Linked DNA regions of Homo sapiens: region 2 is linked to region 1. The links come from fine-mapping of genetic effects on gene expression. A gene starts in region 1. The other region holds a variant in brackets. All regions are shown on one strand. Distances are between the middles of the regions. Region 1 holds the start of TMEM9 (transmembrane protein 9). Region 2 overlaps DDX59-AS1 (DDX59 antisense RNA 1).

The links. PIP is the estimated chance that this variant, and not a neighbour inherited with it, causes the effect.
Region 2: its variant is fine-mapped to the expression of TMEM9 in minor salivary gland (GTEx, PIP above 0.99).

Annotation. Positions count from the first base shown.
Region 1 is chr1:201,152,431-201,157,812 of GRCh38, reverse strand. TMEM9 (transmembrane protein 9) reads left to right here and starts at 3,339. Exons shown (of 5, transcript NM_001288565.2): 1 at 3,339-3,955. The coding sequence starts at 3,890. RefSeq lists a silencer at 3,263-3,542 and an enhancer at 3,953-4,102.
Region 2 is chr1:200,686,298-200,691,679 of GRCh38, reverse strand. DDX59-AS1 (DDX59 antisense RNA 1) reads right to left here. Exons shown (of 3, transcript NR_110787.1): 2 at 1,250-1,371. Among named protein-coding and RNA genes, the nearest start is that of DDX59, 19 kb to the right of the region's middle. The variant G/C (reference allele first, on the strand shown) is at 2,550.

The sequences.
Region 1 (5,382 bases):
CTGGGCTCCCCTGGCCCTTGGTCTAGGTTTCCCAAGTGCCTCTGCAGCCTTCCCCCAGCACAGCTCTTACCACCCTGAATTGTCATTGCTTGTTGATTTGTGGTTTTCTTGCAATAAACTTCAAGTTCTGTGGGAACAGGGACAGGGTTTGTCTTGTTTACTGAGATATCCCCAGCACCTAGCACAGTGCTCAAAAAATTTTTGAAGGGAAAAAGCATTTCTGATACGGGAGATAGAAATTATTTAGGCAGATAGCAAGGACAAAAAAGTCCTTGGCAGAACTTCCCTTCTAATAAGAAGCAGCCCTAGAAATCATTTCTTTTCTAACACAGAGCAGCCTCAAAGATTGGGCTGCAAACATATATAAGGAAGCTGGAAGCTTGCACGGAGGAATGCTGGCAGCTGCACTCATAGAAAAGGGCTACCGGGGGGCCAGGCATGTTCACCATGGGACTCCACCTTCCCTTTTTTGTTAGCACATGTACAGTAAGAAAGAACTGGGCAACATGGAGAAGCTCAGGCAGAGAAACCACCTGCATAATAAAGATTGGGCTGGGAGCTGCCAGAGATTTGTGCCCTATGCAGATGGCACACCTGGTGCTAACTTTTTTTGAGATGCCCTGTATAGATGAGATACTGCCTCCCCACTAGCTCATCTATAAAACCCCCTGCATTTCACCTTAAATTGGCAACTCATTTTTCCAGGACCCCTCTCTGTAGCAGAGAGCTATTGTCTTTCTTTCACCTATTAAATTTCCACTCTTAACCTCACTCTTTGTGTGTCTACCTCCTTGATCTTCATGGCCAGGAGACAACAAACCTCAAGTGTCACCACAGACAACAAGGCTGCTTCACTTCTACAACACATCACTTTCTATGTTACATTCTGACCATGTGATTGGTCTGCTATTAGGTTGTGCATTACTTGAAAGCAGAGTTGCATGTGATTTGTCTGTTGTATCCCTGGGGTACCTAGCATCTGTGAGCCCTGGAGTTTGGCTCACAGATAGTGCTTGGCACATGTTTATGGAATTAAATTTAATGAATAGGTTCAGACTCACTTCACTGGCATGGCTCATAAACACAGGGCACATGGAGGATGTATGGGAATGAGGTGCCCTGGGTCAGGTAGGACTATTTGGGAAAAGCTTCTGCAAGGCAAATGCTTGGGCAAAGATTTGAATAAGATGAAAGATAACGACTGGCAGTGCTGGGGGTGATAATGTCCTATGGAGGACTGCAATGAGCAAAGTCAGATATAGGGACAGCCGGTGGGGGGAGTAACCAGTGATGAGATGGGGTGGGGAAGTGCAGAAATGGTAACCACTTGGCTTGGTTGCCAAGTGGAGGGGTCTGAATTGGATGCAACAGGGTGCTTGCTACCAGGGATTGAGCAATGAGCGATGTGCTGAAAACAGAATTGGAGGAAGACAGGATGGACCTAGGAGCACACAGGAAGGGAGTGCATTTCAGGGAGCAGAATGCTAGCCGAGGAAAGATACAGGCAGGGTGATGATAGCTACCTCCTGGGGACACCTGGATAGACAAGATGTGGAAATATGAGAGAGGAGTCAAAGATAGTTTGATGCCACAATCTAGGACCTGCAGAAATGCAGAATGACAGTGGAAGGCCTCCCTTCTGTTTGATGAGGAAGATGGTGAGCTCAGCATTGGGTATCTTTAGTGTTGTGTGTCAGAGGGTCATCCATTGGAGGTGACAGACTCAGCCCCATGCTTTTGTCCCCATGAAAGTCCCACCTTCATATGGAACGTATATGGGGGGAAGAAGTGTCTTTTTCCAGTACTTGAACTATCCCTTCTGCCCCCACGAGGTAGGCATTCTGTCTCTGCCTGAGCTTGCTCACCAAAGCAGCCATTCTGACCTCCACAATGAGCTAACATTGCCATTTATAGAGCCTCCCTCTTTGTGTCAGATGCTGTTCTAGGTGCTTTGCATATGTAAACTCATTATATCCCTACAACCACCTTGAAAATTTGGTAATATTAATCCCATTTTATGGGCATGGAAACCGAGACTTCTGAAAGGATTCCAAAGACTTCCAAAGATCCAAAGGCGGTGTCCTAAAGGAAACCACCCAAATTCACACAACTAGGAAGGGAGGAACCAGGATTCCTGCCCTGGTCACTCTAGCTCCAAAGCCCCTGACCTTTGCATCACACTGCAGGCCTCCTGCCCCTGCCCCCTGCCAACTAGATTTAATTTAATTCTATAGAATTCAGTTTAGCAAACACTTCCTGAGCACCTACCAAACACAGGTCACTCTGCCAGGTGGCAAGGATATAAAGAGGAATAAGACATAAGCATAGGAGAGAGGAACACAAACTCAGTGGCCTCCAGATAAGTGCCCACCTCAGTTCACAGGGCCTGCGAGGGGCTTGATTCCACCTGGACCCAGCCCCTATGCTAATCCAGCCACCAACCTCAAGTTTGGGCCATATTGATACCCCTCCCACCCACCCCTAAGGAATCCCAACATATCAAAGCTGAAGGGGATCTTAGAATCCAACCGAATCATTTTACAGATAAGGGAAGTAAGGGAAGCTGAGGCCCAGAGAAGGGAGGTATCTTTTCCAGGCTAACACAGCTGCTTAGGGGGAGCGCCAGGGCCAAAGCCCCGGTGTCCTCACTCCGGGTCTGGTGCCCTGAATTCATATGACTCCCCTTTCCTTCACAGCTGGCAAGAAGTTCACATCTGCCACATAGCAGCCAGGGACCCTCACCCCTGCATCCTGGCCATGCACACTTTGCCCCATTTTGCCAGGCCCAGCACCAGCATGGGGTAGGGGGATCAGGCTGAGGACGCTGTTGTGCACACTCTTCACAGGCCCAGCCCACACCACCCATCGCCAACCCTAGATTTCTCCTTCTCAGAGGTGTGTGTAGGGGTAGAGACGTTGCCGCGCAGAAAGTCTTCTGCAGCAAAGACGTGGATCCCTAAATAACATTTCCAGATTTTGAATGAGGACAAAGCCCTTCAATCTCGTATCGTTTTTGTTGACGTTACTAGCTTACAGTGTATAAAGCGCTTTCTTTCTAAAACAGCAAGATGAAACAAGCTGAGTTTTATAATACAAGGAAGGGAGAAGCACCGCAGTGGGAGTTCTCAGGCCACACAAAGGCAAGACCCTTCCCCAGGAGTTTGGAAGGCTGACGTTCCCTTTTCTGGTTTGGTCGGGTTTGAGAAATGCCCGCCTCTCCCTTGCGCAAGAGTCTCCCCGCCCAGGTGAAGGCGGGTCTTGTTGCCATGGCGACAGCGCGGTCGGGTTAAGGGGCTGCTCTGGCAACCAATAGAAGCTAGGAGAGGGCGGGGACAACTGGGTCTTTTGCGGCTGCAGCGGGCTTGTAGGTTCGTGGACGCGGCATTGGGGGAGGGGACGGGGGTCGCGGGGCTATTGGGGGTCCCAGTCCGGCTTAAGACCTCTGGGCGTGGTGGGCACCGGCCTTCGCCGTCGGAGCAGGGGTCCCAGACTCGCACCCAAAAGTTCCCGTCGGGCCCGAGCGGGGAGGAGCTGCGGGGCGGGCAGAGGCGGAGATGGCGGAGGGCGGTGGGACGTGATGCGCGGGTCAGAGCCGGGCCTTGAGAAGGAACTGGAGGCCCCTGGCAGCGGTGTCCCCTCGAGGACCCCTCTGCCGGGCTCACCAGGTGGCTGGCGGAGAGCCGGAGAGTTGGGCGGGAGGGAAGCAGGGTTTGGCGACCAGGTTTAGCAGGCCTTGGAATCCTGGAGCCCAGCCCCCAACCCCATTCCCACTTGGCCGGATGGTTAAGGGCCTAGCGTGCTGGCTGCGGTGTGGCCACCTTCCCCTTCTCCGACTCCGTATCTCTTTTTCCAGGTGTCCGGCTTTGCTGGCCCAGCAAGCCTGATAAGCATGAAGCTCTTATCTTTGGTGGCTGTGGTCGGGTGTTTGCTGGTGCCCCCAGCTGAAGCCAACAAGGTGAGGGAGGTGAGCCTGCAGCACCTGGTCACGACCACAGTGCACGGCCACCCTGTCTACAGGGCTGACTCAGAGGTAGCCAGCTGCTCCTTAAGCCTGCCTCTCACTCACCTATGGGCCATACTTCTTTTAGTGGTCTTCCTTCAGGTTCAAGGCTGCTGGCCTCCCTAAGGATAGTGCGGGTGAGGAGTGAGGAAGGGTGGGGCACAGAGCACTGGCTCACTCTGATCAGACAGATCAGTGGTGGACTTCCAGCAAGGAAGTTTGGAGAAGTTATCTAAGTTCTCCATACCTTCCTTTGCTTTGGACCAAAGTATGTTTTGTTTCAGATATTTTTGGATTTGGGAGTATTTGCACATAAAAAATGAGCTATCTTGGGGAGGGGACCTAAGTCTAAACCTGAAGTTCGTTTATGTTTCATATATGCTGTATATACATAGCCCGAAGGTAATTTTATACAATATTTTCAATAATTGTGTGCATGAAACAAAGTTTATCTACACTGAACCATCAGAAAGCAAAGGCGTCACTATCTCAGGCACCCATGTGGATAGTCTGGTTGGTTGGCATCACCACCATTCCTGACAATGAATTTATATGCTACCGATAAATATTTTCTTACGTTACACATAAGTTCTTAACGGTAAAAAAATATGATGTACTATTAACACAGTGAAAATAAATGATGTGTTCAGGGTAACTAAGCACAGTAGCATCACCAGAATACCTGTATCAGCTGTTAGACACAGCAACATAAGGCTTTCTGTCTCCTGCTGTGATGCTGTGTTTTGATTAAAGGTTACTGTGCACAGTATTTTTTTAGGTGAGAAGTAGTATCTGAAGCAGTAGAGGGACCAGAAAGTGGGTCCTCTAGAGATGAGGAGGCATTCTGCCAGATGGCTTTTAAAAATGTTTTTGCCAGTCACCTGATTCATTAACAAGCTTTTGTCTTAGAAGTCTCTTTGATTTTATAGACTGACACGATTTCTTGTTCTGTTATGAATGCGCTCTGCTATAGTCTTTCAAGAAGCCCGTCACTCATTGTTACCATGTCTGTAGGTGCTTTTCTGCAATGTTAACATCATCTTTGTGGTCATGTCTGTGCTTAACAAGTTTTAGATTGGGAGCATTTCGAATTTTTGTTTTAGGGGTGCTAGTACTACCACCTGTAGTAGCAGTTGTATCTATTACTCTGCTTAGGGAGAATCAAATTACATGACAATGTAAAAATGCCCTGTAAGTGTAAAGTCCTATACAGTTTGAAGTTTCCATTATTAAGGGTGACCCACCTAAGTTCTGGGACTCCTGAGATAACTTCCATTCTTTATTGCTACATTCCTGTGGAGCTGTTTGGGTAGATCTATGGAACTAAAGATCATCCAGACTTTGAAGTAAGGTTAAGGCTGAGAGTTTGTTTCCATTCTCTC
Region 2 (5,382 bases), 470 kb after region 1:
CCAAAAGTAACCCATGAAAATTTTAGGTTTTTTTCTTTTTTTGGTCATTATGAAATCTATCTACATGTAAGATGAACATAAGTAAGGCTAGGTAAAATTATTATTTATTATTTTTCAATTTCTACATATGAAAGGAAATCAATTCCACAGCCTACTATATGACACATTTATGCTACTATGATTATTTTAAAAAGCAATTAAACAGTAAACTAAATACTGTTTTTTTTTTAGTGACAAGGTGAAAAATTAAAATTAAGAAAATATACAAATTGATACTTGCCTATTTATAGAAAGCAAATTAGGTTAAGATGTATCAGCCATATTCATAGCAAAATTTTAATTGACTCCAAAAATGTAACATCTTCACATTTCTCAAAATCTAATTCAAATCAGAAAATATTTGCAATGCTTTTTTGAAATGTTGTTTTGGGAATAATTAAAATGGCACAGTTATTTAAAACTGTGACCTTCCAGAAAAACAGGCTATCCAGGTTTACAGTGCAATCTTTTGCATGACTTAACCTTATAAAAAGTATGGAAACTCTAAGTGTAGGGATAAGAATGTTTAAGAGGGAGAATATTGGGGCCAGGAGCTCCCTTTGGTTCTATTCTTTTCCAAAAAAATCTGCAAATGGCACCTGCTAATGCTTTCTCTAGTGTGAGGGCCATCAATTACCCTAAGCTGGAAAATAAATTTCTATCATTTTGTTGGTAGCTTGCTAGATTATTAAATCTTGTAAGTAATTCAAATATTTTTGTATCAGGTACTGCCAAGGTGCTGGTGATACAAAGGTAAAAAAGTCAGAGTGTTTACCTTCAGGGATTTTACAGTAGAGTGAGTAAGGCGGCCCAGGAAACAGGCAGGAAACCCTAGTGAAAAGCTCTGATATAGCCCCAGTGTGAAATTTTTCTTCCAAAATAATTATTACATTATAACACTGAGTGAAAGCCTAATCTTGCATTTGCTTATAAGGACAAACACACACCCCCAGTGCACTCTCCTCCCACCCCCATCACTGTCCTTTTGCTTAAATATAATCTCCAAGGGATGCAAGCACAACTACATCCTTGGCTCTTATAAACTTGGGACATTGCTGGGCGCGGTGGCTCACGCCTGTAATCCCAGCACCTTGGGAGGCCGAGGCGGGTGGATCACCTGAGGTCAGATGTTCAAGACCAGCCTGGTCAATGTGGTGAAACCCTGTCTCTAATAAAAACACAAAAATTAGCTGGGCGTGGTGGTGCATACCTGTAATCCCAGCTACTTGGGAGGCTGAGGCAGGAGAATTGCTTGTACCTGGGAGGTCGAGGTTGCAGTGAGCTGAGATTGTGCCACTGCACTCCAGCCTGGGTGACAGAGTGAGATTCCGTCTAAAAAAAAAAAGTAAATAAAAATAATAATAATAAACTTGGGCCATTACCGTACATACCTAACACTTCTGACAGTAGGTTTCAGCCCAGCTATGGGTCTGCCTGCCTCACCAAAGAAAGAAGAGCCTTCAGTTCTCCACCTTATTATTCAGGGGTAGGTCATAATCCATCAATTAATACTGAAAGGATTTAAACATATACATCTGCGGTCATGTTTTTTTGTTTGTTTGTTTGTTTGTTTGTTTTGAGACGGAGTCTCGCTCTGTTGCCCAGGCTGGAGTGCAGTGGCGCGATCTCGGGTCACCGCAAGCTCCACCTCCCAGGTTCACACCATTCTCCTGCCTCAGCCTCCCGAGTAGCTGGGACTACAGGCGCCCGCCACCGCGCCTGGCTAATTTTTTTTAAATTTTAGTAGAGACGGGGTTTCACCATGTTAGCCAGGATGGTCTCAATCTCCAGACCTTGTGATCCTCCCGCCTCGGCCTCCCAAAGTGCTGGGATTACAGGCGTGAGCCACCGCGCCAGGCCTCGGTCATGGTTTTCAAACATTTTTACTCCAGATCCTGTGTTTAAATGAAATCACCCCTCGGTATAAAACTGAAAGCTGCTACCCTCATTCCTGATTTCCGAGCATCTCTGCAGAATTCCTGCTGTTTTTCAGAAAGCTGACTTCAAGAATAAACATTAAAACAAAACGAAAAACCTTTAACTTGAATATTTCTTGCAAATGCTTATGTTCATCGTTTCTTTTTTTTTTTTTTTTTTTTGAGACGAAGTCTCACTCAGCTTCCCAGGCTAGAGTATGCAGTGATGCGATCTTGGCTCACTGCAACCTCCGCCTCCCAGGTTCAAGCGATTCTCTTGCCTCAGCCTCCTGAGTAGCTGGGATTACAGGTGCACACCACCACACCCAGCTAATTTTTGTATTTTTAGTAGAGATGGGGCTTCACCACGTTGGCCAGGATGGTCTCGATTTCTTGACCTCGTGATCTGCCCGCCTCAGCCTCCCAAAGTGCTGGGATTACAGGTGTGCACCACTGCGCCTGGCCTATGTTCATCCTTTCTAAGGACACATAGTCTTCTTACTTCATGTGATAATAATGATAATATTTTATATTTTATAAAGCTCTTAACTTTTGGCTGGGATCAGTGGCTCATGCCTGTAATCCCAGCACTTT[G/C]GGAGGCCGAGGTGGGTAGATCACTTGAGGTCAGGAGTTCAAGACCAGCCTGACCAACATGGTGAAATCCTGTCTCTACAAAAAAAAAACAACAAAAAAAAAAACAAAAAAAACCACCAGAAAAATTAGCCAAGTGTGGTGGCATGCACCTATAGTCCCAGCTACTTGGGAGGCTGAGATAGAGAATCGCTTGAACATGGGAGGTGGAGGTTGCAGTGAGCTGAGATTATGCCACTACACTCCAGCCTGGGCAACAGAGCGAGACTCTATCTCACACACACAAAAAAAGCTCTTAACTTTTTCAAGTACTTTTCCATCAGTTATTTCAGATTTTGTGGGCTATGTCTCCCACAATTTAATGTAGCCATTTTAAATTTCATGGTGTATATCTAAGAGGAAAATTTGATATTATAACATGTTTATGGATTTTTCCCACTGTTTGAGTAGTATTGCCTTTCAACTAAGTAGACCTCTTTTAAGCAACCATGATCGCTCATACTTAAGTCCAGTTATCATCTGACACTGAATAATCCACCTACCTGCAATAATCGATTAATCAACACATCAAAATATGCTATAATAAACAGAAAATCCCTAATTTCGACAATGCTTTCATATAATTTGTAGGCTATATTTTAACAAGTCATTTTAATTCTCACAGCACATTATTACACTGTTAAATTGAAATTTAATTTTTTTGCAAGCTGCATTCATTGTTGTTAATATTTATAACTGTTAAGGGATTATAACCAAATGATATCTGGTCCTGGGATAAGGAAAGAGCAAGAATGCAATCTGTTAAATTGGATTAAAGTATTAAGCTCAATTTCTGAAAGCACACTGAATGTATTCCCATAAAAATTAAGATTTTGAAGTGCAGAAGTTTCTTATGATGCAGCAAACAATGAGAAGTCAAAGATGAAAAGGCATTCAGCCTGAAATGAATCCTGCATAAAATGAAGAAAATAGAAACACTCACAGGTTTCATTATTTTAAGGGAAAAAAAACCTTCTATTTTACAGTAGAGAACAATAAGATGTGGGAAATGGAATGGGAGAATGGAGCAGTTTTCTTCTAGGGACATGTATTTAAGAATGGTTTTGGCCGGGCCTGGTGGCTCAAACCTGTAATCCCAACACTTTGGGAGGCCAAGGCAGGCGGATCACCTGAGCTCAGGAGTTTGAGACAAGCCCGGGCAAATGGCAGAAATTAGCCGGGCGTGATGGTGGGTGCCTGTTGTCCCAGCTACTCAGGAGGCTGAGACAGAATTGCTGGAGCCTGGCAGGTGGAGGTTGCAGTGAGCCAAAATCACGCCACTGCACTCCAGCCTGGGTGACAGAGAGAGACCTTGTCTCAAAAAAAAAAAAATGCTCTCAAACCCCTGAAACGCTCTACTAAATTCTGTTGCCTTGTTGAGATAATCCACTAAAACCAATAACTGTTCCTTTTTTCTTACAAGTAAAAACACTTTCTTATTTATTTATTTATTTATTTATTTATTTATTTTGAGACAGAGTCTCACTCTGTCACCCAGGCTGGAGTGCAATGGCGCAATCTAAGCTCACTGCAACCTACGCCTCCCAGGTTCAAGTGATTCTCCCACCTCAACCTCCCAAGTAGCTGGGACTACAGGCATGCACCACCACACCTGGTTAATTTTTGTATTTTTAGTAGAGACAGGGTTTCACTATGTTGACCAGGCTAGTCTCAAACTCCTGACCTTGTGATCTGCCTGCTTCGGCTTCCCAAAGTGCTGGGATTACAGGTATGAGCCACTGCGCCCAGCGATACTTTTTTATTGTAGGAGATATTTATGAAGAAGAAGAAAAAGAAATTACCATAAGCCCACCATCAGAGATAACTACTATTAACACTTTTAACAGCTTTACTGAGATTCACATCCCATAAAATTCACCCATTGAAAGTGCACAACTCAATTTTTTAAGTGTATTTAGAGTTGTACCATCATCAGCACCTAGTTTTAGAATAATTCATCACCCCAAAAAGAAACCTATTAGCATCACTCCTCATTTCCCTAACACACATTTCCCCCTACTCAGTCCTAAGCAACTACTAATCTATTTTTTGTCTCTAGAGATTTGCCTATTCCGGATATTTCATATAAATAGGATCACAGTATGTGGCCTTTTGCAACTGATTTATTTCACTTGGCATAATGTTTTCAAGATTCCTCCATGTTGTAGCAGGTATCTGTACTTAATTTTTTTAAATTGCCGAATAGCATTCCATTGTATGTACATAACATAATTTGTTTATCCATTTATTATGGATATTGGGTTGTTTCCACTTTCTGACTGTCATGAATAATGCTGCTATAAATATTCATGTACAAGTTTTTGTTTGAATACTTGTGTTTAATTCTCTTAGAATCTAGGAGACTGAAATTTCTGGGTCATATGGTATCCCTACGTTTAATATTTTGAGGAACTGCTAAATTATTCTCCAAAATGGCTGTACCACTTTACAGTCCCATCATCAATGTATAAAGGTTCCAATTTCTCCACATCCTGACAACCCTTTATATTGTCTGCCAACTATATATATATTGCTATCCTAGTAAGTGTGAAGTGCTATCTCATTGTGGTTTTGATTTGCATTTCTCTAATTACCAATGATGTTAAGCATCTTTTCATGTATTGGTTATCTGCATATTTTCTATGGAAAAGGGTCTATTCAGATCCTCTGTCCTTTTAAAAATTTGTTTTTTTTTTAAAGTATTAAGACTTCATTATAAATTCTGGTTACAAGTCTCTTATCAGATATATATTAATTACAAATCATTTATTCCATTCTATGAATTGTCTTTTATTTT